Linked DNA regions of Homo sapiens: region 2 is linked to region 1. The links come from fine-mapping of genetic effects on gene expression. Tissue or cell type: whole blood. Region 1 holds a variant in brackets; the other region holds the start of a gene. All regions are shown on one strand. Distances are from middle to middle.

Evidence for each region. PIP is the estimated chance that this variant, and not a neighbour inherited with it, causes the effect.
Region 2: it holds the start of LY75, and the variant in region 1 is fine-mapped to the expression of LY75 in whole blood (TOPMed, PIP above 0.99).

What each region holds. Positions count from the first base shown.
Region 1 is chr2:159,854,070-159,862,176 of GRCh38, reverse strand. LY75-CD302 (LY75-CD302 readthrough) reads left to right here. Exons shown (of 38, transcript NM_001198760.1): 15 at 1,288-1,356; 16 at 3,701-3,815; 17 at 7,238-7,273; 18 at 7,642-7,817. It overlaps LY75 (lymphocyte antigen 75), which reads left to right. Exons shown (of 35, transcript NM_002349.4): 15 at 1,288-1,356; 16 at 3,701-3,815; 17 at 7,238-7,273; 18 at 7,642-7,817. Among named protein-coding and RNA genes, the nearest start is that of LY75, 47 kb to the left of the region's middle. The variant G/A (reference allele first, on the strand shown) is at 3,730.
Region 2 is chr2:159,900,841-159,908,947 of GRCh38, reverse strand. LY75 (lymphocyte antigen 75) reads left to right here and starts at 4,192. Exons shown (of 35, transcript NM_002349.4): 1 at 4,192-4,359. The coding sequence starts at 4,266. It overlaps LY75-CD302 (LY75-CD302 readthrough), which reads left to right and starts at 4,192. Exons shown (of 38, transcript NM_001198760.1): 1 at 4,192-4,359. The coding sequence starts at 4,266. RefSeq lists silencers at 3,990-4,231, 4,001-4,460 and enhancers at 4,641-4,720, 4,861-4,910, 5,131-5,180, 5,231-5,280.

The sequences.
Region 1 (8,107 bases):
GGGACTTCAGGCATGTGCCACCACGCCCAACTAATTTTTTAGTAGAGATGGGGTTTCACCATATTGGCCAGGGTGATCTCTAACTCCTGACCCTGTGATCCACCCGCCTCAGCCTCCCAAAGTGCTGGGATTACAGGTGTGAGCTACCGTGCCCTTCCACGCCCAGCTAATTCTTATATTTTTTTGTAGAGATAGGGTTTCACCATGTTGCCCAGGCTGGTCTCAAACTCCTGAGCTCAGGCAGTCTACCCATCTTAGCCTCCCAAAGTGTTGGAATTACAGGTGTGAGCCACATCTGGCCACAAGTGATTGTTTTCAAAGCTTTCTCTTTATACTGTTTATTTTCATTTTTATAGTAAGAAGCTTTTCTTTTTATTATCTAAATATGGAAGAGTTATACAAAAAATAAAATATCTTTTTCTGGGGGGACTAGGTGGGGATGACAGAGTCTCACTGTGTCACCCAGGCTAGAATACAGTGGTGCCAGTATGACTCACTGCAGCCTCAACCTCCTGGGTTCAATTGATCCTCATGTCTCAGCCTCTCAAGTACAGGCACATGCCACCACATCCAGCTAATTTTTGTATTTTTTGTAGAGATGGGGTTTCACCATGTTGCCCAGGCTGGTCTCGAATTCCTGGGCTCAAGCCATCTGCCAACCTTGGCCTCCCAAAGTGCTGGGATTACCAGCATGAGTCACTGTGCCTGGCCAAAAGTATCCTTATTGGAGGAAATTATTTGTTTGGAGAAACCTCTAGAAAATCCTTGCTATTATTCCACATTTATATTATAAGGATATATTAGTGTAATAGTTATAGGAGCAAAATTATTCTCAGATATTCAATATTTACTCCAATTTTTGTCACCAAAAATTGGTGACTCCAATGTCACCTCCTTTTTTATTCTTTCTAAATGTAAAACTCCTTGAGTTTATTTTCAAATTGGAGCATATCTGAGATTAGTTAATCAAATAATGAGCATTTCAACACATGCAAAAAAAGAAAAAAGTATTTTGCAAACCTGATTCTCTATGACTCCAGCGGCGAACTTAATACACTATTAACTTCCACTTCTGAAACTGTGGCTTCCTTTGTTTGGAAACTTATGACATTATGACATTTGCTAAGTCCTCTCATGATTTAGCATCATGATATAAAAAAGAGATGGAAAAGTTTTCTTTCTGTGGCATATCAACGCACTTGAGTGATTAAGGCTGCCTAAATTACATCTAAATTGCAAATATTTATACATCAGTCTTAAATTCTCAAGCCTCTCTTGTCTTTTCAGGTGTCTACTATTATCATGCCAAATGAGTTTCAGCAGGATTATGACATCAGAGACTGTGCTGCTGTCAAGGTCAGTACAATGCTGGAAAATCTGCATATTTAAAACATAAGTCCATCATCATATGCAGTCAAGTAACAGATCCATGGAGTGTCTTTTTATGTGAAGCATGATGTTAGATGCAGTGAGAGATAAGCACACCCATGGCCTGGCCCTCAGCAGCCTAACTTACACTTCATTTGAGAGGATAAAATTCATATTCAAGAAAACCTCTCTCATTACCACGCAGTAATATGCTCCAAATGAGGGGGCTGAGGAAGGCTAATGAAATTCAGAGGAGAAAGTGAGTCCCATGGCCATTTCCCAGGAAGAGGTGGGACTTGAACTGGGACTTTAAGGATGGATAGAGTTTCTACAAATGGGATAGGGTAAGGTTTTTTCATGAGGGGATGGTATGAGAAAGTGGTATAAAATAAGGTGGAAGTGGAAGAGGGCAGTGGAGAACAGAATACAGATCAAGAAGTTTCATTGGTGCTGTCCTTGATAACAGTATTAGGAAATCAGATTGATGCCACTTTAAGGAATTTCTACACTTCTTGATAGGCAACAGGGCATTTTTTAAAGTTTCTGAGTAGGGAGGGTCACATGAACTAAGGAGGGTATGAGGAAGATTCATCTTGAGACAGATGTCAAAAGCAACAGGTAAGATTGGAAGGCATAGAAGACCAGTGAGGCATCTTCCTTTGCAGAATGCATTCATGTATCCATTTCATAAACAGTCCAAGGAGTCAGTGAGGCACTGGGTGATAGAACAATGACAAGGTACAAAGCATAGCCATTGTCTTCACAAAACTAAAGTCTAGTAGGAAATAAAGACAAGTAAACAAGCAATTACAACACCACTGAGTAAAGACTATGACATGCGAAATACAAGTTTTATGCAAGAACAAGAATATTATGAAAGAATAATAAGGATGGTGATGGTGATGGTCCATGGTGGTGGTGATGATGATGATGGAGCAGCTAACACTGATTAACTCCTTTATGAGCCAGCCACTATACTAGGCATGTCACATATGTCACATAGCACATAAGCAATCTTGTGAGGTAGGCACTGTTACTGTATTCATCTCACATGGAAATTTGAGCTGTGAGTAATTTACCCCAGCTTACATGGAGTAAATTTAAACTGAAAGAACTGAAATTTACACCCATGTGTGTCTGGGTCTGGTACTCTTAACCACTATGCTATATGACTAGGCATTTATAGAAATAGAAAGGGTATTGATTTATGAGAAAATTGTATGTTTTAGTTCAGATATTTTGAATCCAAGCTAGCTATAAGATGTATGCTATGGTAAGTTGAGATCAAGAGTCTTGAGTTGAAAGGAAAATGTATATTTTTAAAAAAAGGGCCAAGAAGTGGATTTGGAGGAACTGCCAATATATAGAGTGAAAAAAGATGAAGATGGAGGAGACATCAGTTAATATCTTTGATTTGTAGTCCAAGAAAGAGATTCAACAAGGTGGCTGACCAGAAATGTTACAGGAAGGCTGAGGGATATAAGAACTGACAAAACCACAGGAAAGCACTGTTTTCAAAGTAACTCTTCTAGTAATAAACTGTGTAGTACATGTCATTTTTATAGAATTCCCAATGTAACACAGGAAAAGGTGAAAACTTCAGAGAAGCTTATGGAATTTTTAGTAGTGTTGAGAACACTGGTACAATAAACTGTGTTCTAGGGAAATAGAGTTGCCAAGTATGGAGAGATTTGAAAATCTACCAAATAAATAAAGAGATACTAATGCAACCTGCATCAGGAACAAGCCCAGCCAGGGCAGTGTTCTGTAAGGAAAATCTTACCTCACCTGCCACAGAACCCCCAGAAACTTGGTCTTAAGAGAAAATAGTCTAAGAAGTGATGGATGTCTCTCCCAAGTAATGCCTTCCCCTATCCTTTTTATCCTACTTGCTGACTGGAATTTGTAATGAGCCATCCTGGACCATGTGGAGAAGGGCAAAATCCTAGAAATGGCATGGTAACACCAGAGAAGGAGCCTGAGCCACTGAGGCTGGACCTTTATGTCGCTTTCTGATCTAATTTGATCACAGCTTGGTGCTTGGATACCTCTGAAATAAATATTCTAACAAAAATTGTCAGGTGTGGGGGAGAAAATTTGCATTTTGGACATAAACATGACTTTACAACATATTTCCTTTGTTAGCCCCTTTGAGGGCTCTTGCTCAGGGTATTACTGTTTAAATATTCCATTAATTCATGTGTTCATTTATCGAACAAATATCTTAGGTGCTAGAGCTAAAATAGAGATCAAAGTCATAGGGCTTACAGTTTAGTGTTCCATAAGGGATGTATCAACTTCAAAATATTCTGCAATACTTTTCCTCTTATAGGTATTTCATAGGCCATGGCGAAGAGGCTG[G/A]CATTTCTATGATGATAGAGAATTTATTTATTTGAGGCCTTTTGCTTGTGATACAAAACTTGAATGGGTGTGCCAAATTCCAAAAGGTAAGTGGTAGTTATTCCTTTTCACAACCTTCTCATGTTAACATTGTGAATGCCTAGCTCAAAGTAGCTAGGGGAGCATTTTGATCTATAATTCTGATGTCTAAAAGCCTATGATGATGATGCAATTAATATGTGGAGCACCCCCTGCCTGACTCCGGCTTCTAATAGAAGGCTAGCTTATTGAAATTTAGTGATATCTTACTCTTTGATCATGGAAGAATTTGCATAGAAGATAAAATGTGAGGCTCATTCAGGGAGATTAGATTTTGGATGAAATATTATTTTAAGCAAAAGGAGAAATGCAGAATCATTTTCGTTTTTATTTTGATGCAAAATGAAAAAATAAAGATAATCTTGGGAAGAATAAGGCAGAAGTCAAGAAATAAAAATTTGGCAGGTCCCTGTAAAATTTAGAAGCAATTTTCAATGAACTATAAAACTGCTAATACTTTATATAAATTCAAATTTGAGAAGCCAGTTAGATTGATAGTATAGCCTTTGATAACAGAAGGGAGAGTGGGGAGAAATGTAGATACCATTTTACTTTACTTTTTCCAGGAAAACATGAAATATTAAGAAAAATGTTAAGACTTTAATTCTCAAATTATTATTATTATTTTTTAAGACAGTCTTGCTCAGTCTTCCAGGCTGGAGTGCAGTAGCACAATCTTGGCTCACTGCAGCCTCTGCCTCCCAGGTTCAAGTGATTCTCCTGCCTCAGCCACTGGCGTAGCTGGGACTACAGGCACCCACTACCGCACCTAGCCAATTTTTGTATTTTCAGTAGAGTCAGGGTTTCACCATGTTGGCCAAGCTGGTCTCGAACTCCTGACCTCAGGTGATTGGCCCGCCTCAGCCTCCCAAAGTGCTAGAATTACAGGCATGAGCCACTGCACCCAGCCTCAAATTATTTTTAAGCAGAGATTGGCTGTATGAAATTAATTAGCAGAAAACCCATAGAAGGTTTTTAAAGAAATCTCTGAACTGAATGTAAACAGATCATTGAAACTAAAGGTATATCCTCCTACAAGTTCTCAAAGAACCCAAAGTTCACATCATGGAACTGCCTATTAGAAGATTGTTATTCCTAAAATAGTTAAAAGAGCTTCAGATGTGACATCAGGTAGTAGCAAATCTCTTTCACAAAGGCAAACTGTCAAACCAGTTGTAAGGGAAAGACAGTTGTGTTGATGGGTTTTTCTAAAGGATAAATTATGCCTAAGTTATTCTTGATTATTTTATTAAACCCAAAAAAGGGACAAAGGAAAACCAGTTTGGATATCCTTTAAACAAGTGGAAAAGTAACTTGTATATAATTAATTCGGACAATGTCTCTGTTTTGAAGTGTTAATGTGAGCCTCCCATTACTCTCTGGCATTTGTTAGCATTCCACAGACAGTGTCATTGTTCCAACCAAAGTGCCCTCGATGGGAGCTGCTGCCCCCACCTCCTGTTTGAGCAGTGGAGCAGACCCCAGAGTTTAAACAAGGGCAACCTTAGAAATGGCAAATTAGCCACCAGAGGAAATAGTATGAAGGGCATGTGGAGGTGTATATATATTTTTTTTAATATATATTTTTTAACAAGAGAGAAAGGAATTAACCCACTTAAAAATATAAATCAATTAATCGAACAAATCTAAATAATTCCACCTCCATTATCCCCATGCAGAAATAAAATAAAAAACTAAACTCCTGTTCTCAGCCTGTCCCAATCACTTGAAGAAATCAATGATTGCTTGCTCCAGGGTTTAAATGTTATGTTCACCCTTTTTTGACCGTACTGTACCTAACTTTCTAAGTTACGATGTGATGCATTCAGCTGGTTGGATATTTTCTTGGTTATTAGAGCAGCCTAAGTTTACTCAACTTGTATTCATCTGTATTTTCTGGTTTTCTTAAAGAAGTTTTCCTCTTATGTATTCTAAATCACCATGCCTCTTCTCTGGCTCTTGCCTTTTTATTACTTGGTTCTAATTAATCCTCTCTTCCCTAAAAGAGATATTTTGACAACCTGTAAATTTGAAGTTACCTCAACCACAGTGGATATTTGTACTTTTTAAATATTATTTTTTGAGAAAACTGTGTCAAAAATAAGGCTCATAAAAGTGTTTTTAGGAAAATTACCTATGATGCCATTACCCAGACATAGCAATTTTTATTGTATTTCTTGATACCTTGTACACACATACATGTTTGCAATCTTGTATAAAAAACACCTTGCATCCTACTTTTCTCACTAATTTAAAGATATTTAAAGGTTAGCCATAGCTTTCCCTCCCCCACACACAAATAATCAGAAGTCTTTGACAAGATTACAGACAAGAAACTATGTACATTTTGAACTGACTTGCAACATTATTGTTGGAAATTATCCAATACGAATAGAACTGGCTCAGAGAGAGACTAAAGATGCTGGCTATTCAGGCAGTCCTCTGAGTCAGGTCTTCTGATGCCTGCCTGAGGCTCACATGCCACACCAAAATTAAGACCAGCTATTTTACTCTGTAATTTCTAAGATTAAGCAAATGATGTCTTTGACTTGAAGCCAGTGTGATCTGTGGCCAGAATGAAAAGGGGGAGGAACGCAAATAGGCTCCCATGGGGAACTTCCCTGTGCCTGGTCCTGTGCTGGCCACTTCCTCCAGGGCATCACACGTGACCTTCACTCTCTGTGAGTCAGGTAGCCATCTAGTTTTCATAGAGGAGAAAATCAAGGCTCAGAGAGGGTTAAGCCACTCATCCGAAATACCATGGCAGCAAAATGCATAAGGGCATTTGCACACTGACCCGCCCAGCTTCCAACCCGGAATTCTGTGTAGCATGCCATTATTTACTCCGTTTCCATCTGGGAATCCTGAGTCACTTTTAATTATTTTCCTCTCAGTTTTGTCTCATCTTCTCAAAAGGTTCAACACTGGAGCATTGTACATTGTTTCCAAGGATATCTTGGAAGACAATGAACTCTATCAACCTAAGTTTACAGAACAGTTAACCTGTTTCATTAGATGCAGAAGTGGTTCCTGAATAACTTCCCTTTTCAATGACCGTTATTTTGGTTCCTACTTCTTATGCTTCTGTGTAACACATACAATATCATTATTTACTTGTTTTTACTTTCTAATTCTTAGCTATATTTTATCTGTCTTACTTCTTTTGTGACCTCTGTGACACAAGGTAAAAGACTGCTAGAAATACTTCATTAATATTTAACGTATCTGCCTTTTGGATTTCTCCTGAAGCAGGTTTAGCATCGGCCCTACAAAATACAACTAAAGTGATCAAAACGTGAAGTGGGTTGGCCAGAAATGGACAAGACTCAACAATACTGCAAGTCCTTTCGAGCTACATTAAAGGCCGTACTTATAGTATACCCTGATCTGTCATGGAATACTAATGCCACTTGCTTTCTTCCTCATACAGGCCGTACTCCAAAAACACCAGACTGGTACAATCCAGGTGAGTTAAGAAAACTGAAATTTAACCAAAGCTGCTTTTACCTTGTCACTAATGCATTTAGTTAATTATTTAAGTGCCAGCTTCTTCTCTATACATCTTCAAGTGAGACAAAATTTCTCCAGGCAAGGAAGGTGAGCGACTGGTATGGGATGAGGTGATGAGGGTGACTTTTTCCTTCCCTGTGAGTGTAGGGGAGTGGCAGAGTCACTGGCTCAGGAATCTCTTGTTCCTTGTAGTCAGTACTGCCCCAGCCAGAGAGGGCCGGTAATCTGAATTACTATTTATAGTTTTGAACATTAACTCATGCTTAGAGGACACAGTTTGCTTTGCATAGTCATAATTCTAATCTTTTTCTTCTTCTTCTTTAGACCGTGCTGGAATTCATGGACCTCCACTTATAATTGAAGGAAGTGAATATTGGTTTGTTGCTGATCTTCACCTAAACTATGAAGAAGCCGTCCTGTACTGTGCCAGCAATCACAGCTTTCTTGCAACTATAACATCTTTTGTGGGACTAAAAGCCATCAAAAACAAAATAGCAAATGTAATTTAAAAGAATATATTTTAAATATATTTCTTATTTTTGTATTTATTCCATTTAAAAATATTACAAAAATTTTGCCAAAATCTACAAAAGTTAAATTTTTCTTTAATGTAAAATCTGCCTCACAGCATCCAAATTTGTTTCATGTTAGAAAAATTAAGTAGAATTGCTTATGTTTTAAAATATACAAGATTAATAATAAATGTCACTTTATAAGGTAAACATCAGTAGATAATATAGATCATTCTAATTTCCTGTCACATTTTTTACTAAAAGTCAACTTTATAGTT
Region 2 (8,107 bases), 47 kb before region 1:
AAAGCAAAAAGACAAGTGACAAAAAAAACCCAACCCTTGAAATGATTCATTTACATAAAATTCAAAAACATGTAAAATTATAGGTACTCTTTAAGGAATGAATCATATATGGGAAAACGGTAAAGAAACAGTGATGAATAATTCAGAGGAGAGGTTACCTCTATGTGGGAGTAAGGTGAATATGACCACAAGAGGCCAACAAGCATAGCTATTCTTTTTTGGGGTATGATTTATTTTATAATTAAAAAACGTGACTTCAGAGATTCTAAAAGCTCCTTTTCCCCTCCTCCCTAATTGTGATTGGGAATAAAATATCACTAACACTCTCACACACTCATTCAAGTTCTATAGTTAGATTTCCATCATAGTGTCTTCACTTGTGGCTACTAACCTGGTCTAGGTATCAGTCTTCTCTGTGTTGTCTTAGTTTCCACATTTATAAAATGAGGATTATAGGAGTACTTACTTTGTAGGATGATTCCTAAACAAGAGAGTACATGGGAAATGCTTAGCACATGGTCTGGCTTCCAGTGGGTGGCCGATGTTTGTAATTTGTTTATACCATTGTCTCAGCTTGTAGCATCTTCATTGCCTCTATCTACTGAATGCTTCTCATCCAAGGACATCCAGTTCAATGCCTGAAAACTGCTGCCCCCACCCAAGCCAATTTTCCCCTCTTTTAAATGTCTAGACCTTCCATTGCCTGCATCATTTATGAGGTATTACTATATATTTACTTATTCATTCATGCAGCAAATCATGTGCCAGGTATTAGGGACACAGAAGTGAATGAAGCAGGCATAGTCACTGTCTTCATGGAGCCTGCAGCCTGGTGAGGGAGATACACATTAAACAAATGAGCAAGCACAGAATGATCTACTCCAGCTGTGCTAAGTGCTATCAGGAAGAAGTGTGGGAAGCCTGGAGAACCTGTTATAGAGGAAGCTCACCTAGACTGTAGAGTCAAAAAAAAAAATTTCTTTGAGAAAGTAACGTCCAAGGTGAGACCTGAAGGACACATTGCTTTTTATTGTCACCATTGACAATATTTACTGAGAATCTATAACCTAGGTGAAATAATCAGTGCACATGTCCCTGAAGAAAAAATCGTGGCAAGAGGTAATACATGTTAAATACCAAGTGAAAGGAATTCACACTATTAGGTAGATATTTGGAAGAAGGTTAACCCCTTGGTAGAAGTGTTTTACGTAAAATGTCAGATCTAAACAGAAACTTCAAGAAAGGTTGGAACTAAGACAAAGGGAAAATGGCATTCTGGATATGCATATATGGGCAGAGATAAGAAAAGGCAAGACAGGTTCAGACAGGTAGCTTGAACCAAAGAGTGACATATGAAGGGAGTAAAGAGAAAGGGTCAGATTAGGCCAGGCACGGTGGTTCACAACTGTAATTCCAGCACTTTTGGAGGCTGAGGCGGGCGGATCACCTGAGGTCAGGAGTTCGAGACCAGCCTGACCAACATGGAGAAACCCTGTCTCTAATAAAAATACAAAATTAGCCTGGCCGTGGTGATGCATGCCCGTAATCCCAGCTACTCAGGAGGATGAGGCAGGAGAATCGTTTGAACCCAGGAGGCGGAGGTTGCAGTGAGCTGAGATCGCGCCATTGCACTCCAGCCTGGGCAACAAGAGTGAAACTCCATCTCAAAGAAAGAGAAAGGGTCAAATTGTAGAGGTACTTGCTTTTTGTCTTAGAGTTTTCTTTTTGTATCATGGGCTTCTCTGGGATTCTCATGAAAGCCTTGTACCCTTCCTCCTCCTCCTCAAAACATAGTGCATTTATAAAGCTGCATAAAATTTCAGGGTTTCATAATTTCCCTTAAGTAGCATTTAGGAGCTCCTGCTATATGCAAATAGCACTGAAAGGATTTGAGTAGAAAAGTGGCATGTTCCAAACAGTGTTTAGAAGGATTCATTTGCCAGAGAGGATAATAACTGTTGGCAGTGAGGTCAATTGATAAATTATTGCAATATAATGCAAGTAGGAGCTCATATGGCCCTAGGCTAAGGTGGTGGCCCTAGGAATCCATCCATCGATTAAACTAACATTTATTGAGAGCTGACTTTGGGACAGGCCCTGTGCCCAGTGTTGAGGATGTGATAATGAATACGGCAAGACCACTGCCCTCAAGGAGCTCCAAGCTGGGCAGGATCAGAAAGAAAGGCAGGCAGCCACAGAGGCAGAGGGGATCAGGTCAGTGGCAGGTTCTCCTACTCAGAACTTCCCACCATCTGTGCCTTAGAATAAATTCAAGGCCCTTCACAAAACAGACACAACTCACCTTTCTGCTGTCATTTCCACTGGGGCCCCCACCACAACCACTTTGATCTCTCTCACAGACACACCCCCCGCAGGGCAGCTACCCTGGACTCTGGACTGTCTTCTGACTCTGCTTGCATTTTCTGGCCTCTGCCCTGTCACTGGTTTTCTCCCACCAGCTGTGCCTGCTCAAATTCCTACCCATTCTTTAAGACCCAGCTAAGATGTTGCCTTCCCTCAACATTTGTCAGAGTTTCCCCATTCATTCTGCCCTGTGTCACTGAGTGTGCCTGTATTAGGGTTCTCTAGAGGGACAGGACTAATAGGATACATGTATATATGAAAGGGAGTTTATTAAGGAGTATTGACTCATATGATCACAAGGTGAAGTCCCACAATAGGCTGTCTGCAAGCTGAGGAACAAAGAAGCCAGTCCGAGTTCCAAAACCTCAGAAGTAGGGAAGCCAACAGTGCAGCCTTCAGTCTGTGGCCGAAGGCCAGAGATCCCCTGACAAACCACTTTTATAGGTCTAAGAGTCCAAAAGCTGAAGAACCTGGAGTCCGATGTTCGAGGGTAGGAAGCATCTAGCACGGGAGAAAGGTGAAGGCCAGGAGACTCAGCCAGTCAAGTCCTTCCAACTTCTGCCTGCTTTTATTCTAGCCATGCTGGCAGCTGATGAGATGGTGCCCACCCAGACTGAGGGCTGGTCCGCCTCTCCCAGTCCACTGTTAATCTCCTTGGCAACACCCTCACAGACACACCCAGGAACAATACTTTGCATTCGTTCATATCAATCGAGCTGACAATATTATCCATCACAGTGCCTCAGTCTCCCCAGTATTCAGGGGAGGGCAGAGATGTTGTCTTTTTGTCCTTCTGTTCCATGGCGTGCCCAGATCCTGTGATGGCAGGTGCTCACTATATCTATGGAACTGAAAGGCCAGACCCTGGGGAGAGGACAGAGCAGGTTTGGGAGCCAACTGTGAAACCTTGGCAGTGGGAGTCAGGAAGAGCAACCTAGGTCTTTGCATCCTCATGCAACAAGGATGGAGGCCACCTCAAGTACACATTATGTGCTCAGCAAAGACGAGATTTAAAAGTATAAAACATTCACATTTGAGCAACTTAGGTCATTAAGAATTTGGCCTCTTTATAATGATAGCAGTGTCCACAGGAAGAGAGTGAGTGGGACATGAAATTTCTGGTTCTGCATGCAGACTTCTACATTTCTACCAGCTAATTATTATTATCATTAAATTATTAAGCAAAGAGCTTACTCGCAAAGGTCAACTTTTTATAAAGCATAAGTCATCCTTGGAAGTGTCGTTTGGTCATTCTAGTAATTCTTGCTTTTAATTCTTTAACAACTATGGGTAGAACTGCAGTGTACCATTATTCCACCTTTGTTTGCACTGTCAAAATACCCAAGACGTTGCCAAGGACGACTGAATTCTTAGGCTTGGCCGCAGCCACCCACAGGGCAGGTGCTCACTTCCTCCTCCGGGGTAGAAGAGATCATGGGTCCCTTTCCAGTCCAGGCTGGAATGGAGAAGTCGTCCCTGACCACAGTGCGCCAGGCAGAGGCCAAGGTTCTAAACTGATAGAACCCACCCACCAGGGCGGTGCCAAGTCCCAGTAAGGGCCGCATCTCCCCAGCTTGGCTGATGAAGAGGCGGGGACCGAACCCTCCAGTGCAGGAGCCTGTCTGGTGCCTGGCTCTCCCACCGATCCGCACGTACCTCTTCCTCGCGGGTCCTACCCCACGCAGGTATCTAGCGCCCAGCCCTGTTCATTTCCCACACCTGGCCCGCTCCGCCCCGGGGCCGAGGAGACGCACGTCTGATTGGCCGAGGGCGGCGGGGGCGGGGCCGGGGCGCCCCCAGAGGCCTAGACAGAGGTGCGGGCGGGGCAGGCCGCGCTCAGCAGGCGGGGCGGGAGCCGCGTGCGCCCGAGGACCCGGCCGGAAGGCTTGCGCCAGCTCAGGATGAGGACAGGCTGGGCGACCCCTCGCCGCCCGGCGGGGCTCCTCATGCTGCTCTTCTGGTTCTTCGATCTCGCGGAGCCCTCTGGCCGCGCAGGTAACCGCGGGCACGCCAGCCCCGCAGTCCGCTGGGTGCCTCGACGCCACAGCTCTGCTGCCTTCCAGCCTGGGGCAGGGCTGCGCCCCTGGGGCAGGTCACGGCTGCTTTGCTGTTGGGGCGGGGGGGCTCTGGAGCCGGAAGAGTGAGTCGCAGGGGAGGTCTGGCAGAGGAAGCGCCCCAGTGCCCTCGGGGGCCCGGAGGAGGGCGCGGTGGATGTGGGAGGACAGGGCCCTTCTGGTGCAGAGGGGACGCGGTGCACCGTAGAGTAGGCGCACGGAGGCTTTTTTGGCCGGGTGCGCTGCTCCATCGTCGCCTCTCTTATATAATGTTGCTGGAGTATGGGGTTCCCCATCTGCCCTCTTGCGTCCCGTCCCTCCCGTTCTCGCTTTTCCTTCGGCCCTTGGTCACCTTGGCCACAGGGCCAAGAGGAGCCTCCACCCACAGCGCCAAGGATTCCCCACGATTCCCGGATTTCACTGCGCCTACGGTGCGCATCAGGAAGGAAGTCAGGTTAAATAAACCATCTCCTCCGAAAGTGACCAAGACCAAGAGTCAGCTATGATGCCCTCACCCACCGCCTAGAGCAACAAACCTTTCTTCTCATTGGTTTATCAGCTCCAAATGACCCCGCTCCCCCAAGGCTGACAGCCTCACGGTGAAGGGCAGGTCGCCTGCTTGGGGACCTGCTGCCTCTCACTGCGGAAGCAGGACCAGAAACAGACAGCCTTCATTGATGTTCAGGGTAGTGCCAGCCCCACCACACCACACCCCTTGGCAGCAACCGGTTGCTTTTACTTTCTCTTTTTGCCTGGGCGAGGGGTGTGCAGAGAACTTTGTTTCTTGGTTGGACTGCATCATGGGCACTCAATGGGCCACCCTCCACCGGCCACTTCTGTTATCGTGCCTGTATGAGGAAGGAAAAGATTGTCCAGGCAGTTTGAAAAACATTAAATTGTTGGTGGCTCTTATTTTCTTTGCAGCTAAGCTAAGTTACCATCTGGTTTAGACTTCCTTCGGAGAGCGATGGGAAGAGATTTCTCAGAGTGTGAATGGCATCATCCTATCTACAGCAAGGACCTGGAAATGAACCCTGCTCTGAGTCACACTTCTCTATTCTCCTTTGACCCTGTGTGCTAGGAACTACCAAAAGAATCCTTTAAAATAAGATCCTTTATTGCCTTGATAATTTATTCTGCCTGCCCCACAATCCAAGGTGGAAAAGTTCACTGCAGCAACTAACTACAGTGAAAATGCACTAACTTTTCAATCACTAACCTCTTGGTTCCCATCGACATCTGCTTCAGTCCTGTTTTTATCTCCTTCACAAATTTCAGGATTTCCCTAATTCTTGCAATCTCTGCAATCACTGCCCTTTATCACTGACCCAAAGCAAAAAGCACCAGGTTTAACTCTGTTCCCCCTGTGCTAGGTCCCCACAGGTTTTGTTATCCTGTATCCTTCCTTACTCCTAGCAGCTACTCTGATCGATTTTCTCTCACCCTCAGAGCAGACTTGTGGCCTTGTTTGGGGAAGCACTGGAATTTTGAACCCCCAGCCATTTGGGTCAATTGTTTGGCAAGAGTGTCCGCTTCATGATGCTGGTGATGGCATGCACCTCGTCACATGTGCACGGCTAGGCTTGTGCAGGTGGCCTCTATTACCCAAACACTGAAGGAGCCCCTCTGTGTCCTTGGAGAGATGCCAGGTGCTTAGTTTACATTTTTGCCTGCTTGGAGAGCTAACAGCTTGAAGTAAACCAATCCATCAGGGACTCCTGAGGTTTTCACCAGCCAACACCACCCAATCGTGCGTGAAGACTTTCTGACTCCCTGGACATTGCCATGGACTCAACTGTCACTTCAGGACCTGTTTTTGAACTAACAAACCTAGACTTCTGATTCTCTCTTGCTGCACCTACCTGTACATTCCGAACACATGGTAGAGACTCTACAAAATGCTTAATATGTGATCTATGGACGGTTCCCCTGAAATTATAAATGCTGCCATCTTCATCCTTCTTGTTTTCCCAAGCTATTTCCCTATCCATTTGTCTGTGGTTATAAATGTCAATATCCAGCTTCTCTTTGGAATGTGTGAAGCTCTTTGGTCTAGGGACCAAAGGCAGGAATTATTTAGTGATCAGACAATAAGAAAACACTGAAAGAGATGATTTGCCTTTGATGGATGTAAAAATACTAAAAATTTATTTTCAATTTATGGTAATGCTACTTAGCCATTTTCTCTCAAACACCACTGGAGAATTTATATAACATGAAGCATATACAAAATGCATCTAGGGGGTAATGAGGCTTCTCTTCATCAACTTCTGCCTTTTAGATTTGCCCCAATATTGTACTTGGAGGTAAATATTAAAACTCCATTGAGGACTGGTATAAAGTTGTAAAGTGAACAAAACCCAGTAGAAAGCTATTGATAAAGAATCTATTTTATAAAATAAGTTTTATACAATAAAATCTACTCTGTAATTACCTTTTCAAAGTATATTTCTAAAATAGCTTATATGCCCTTCTGTACCAAATTTTCTAAATAAGGGATTATGTTCACACTTTCTCAGTCCTCCTTCCAGCTCTTCAACCTACTATCCCAATAAGGGTCGTAAGACTGAGGCAGTTTCAACAGCTCCTGCTAAGGTTAAAGAAAGATACGGGGAAGCATCATGAAAGGATAGGACTCTCCCTATCTAATGTATGTTTATACATACCTTATATATGGAGGCTAATAAGTTTCCTTTAAGTATATCAATAATTAAGATCTGTACTAAGTGACCACTATAAGTGTCACATTGAAATTGCATACTTGGTTCAAACAAGGGATTAGTCTGAGAAAAACATCTATATTCAGAGATGTAGCAGTTTGTTAGGAAGTTTGGCAGCTCCACTTTAACATAGCTACTCCACACCTCTCCTGTAGTGTTTTAGTGTTTCAATCTCGGACTCCTAACTCCTGCTTTTTCCACTGTATAAAGAAATGTAGCTAATCCATTGGATTCTACAAAAATTTTGAAAAATCCAGAACTGCAAACTGCAAAGGAAGGCAAAGCTGCTGCTTCCCCAGTTCACCTGTTTGGGATCCAGCACACAAAGCAGAATGCCCGGGAAAGACAGCAGCAAGACTACAGGGCAGGAGAGGGGCTGTTTCCAACAAGGGTGATGGGCACGTCTCCTGCAGGAGCAGACTTCTTTTTTCTTCTGTAATTTTTGATACTTTGGAATGCAAGATTTATTTTGGAGAGGCAAGAGAGAATACTTTGGAAAAGATGTAGATCAGAGATCTGAGTAGCTATTGAATTGTGGGAGAAGGCCATGAGAGAAAGTGTGAGTAGTAATCTTATAGCACATTTTCCTTTTTTGTTGACTGTCTTCCCAGCCTGTGTCCATCAAGTAGAAAATGGCAGAGGAATGTCAAAGAAGAAAGTGTGAGGGATGTGGCTGGGCACGGTATCTCATGCCTATAATCCCAGCATTTTGGGAGGCCGAAGTGGGTGGATCACCTGAGGTCAGGAGTTCGAGACCAGCTTGGCCAACATGGTGAAACCCCATCTCTACTAAAAATACAAAAATTACCCGGGTGTGGTGGCAGGCACCTGTAATCTCAGCTACTTGGGAGGCTGGGGCATGAGAATCACTTGAACCTGGGAGGCGGAGGTTGCAGTTAGCTGAGATTGTGCCACTGCACTCCAGCCTGGGCAACAGAGCAAGACTCCATCTCAAAAAAAAAAGTGTGA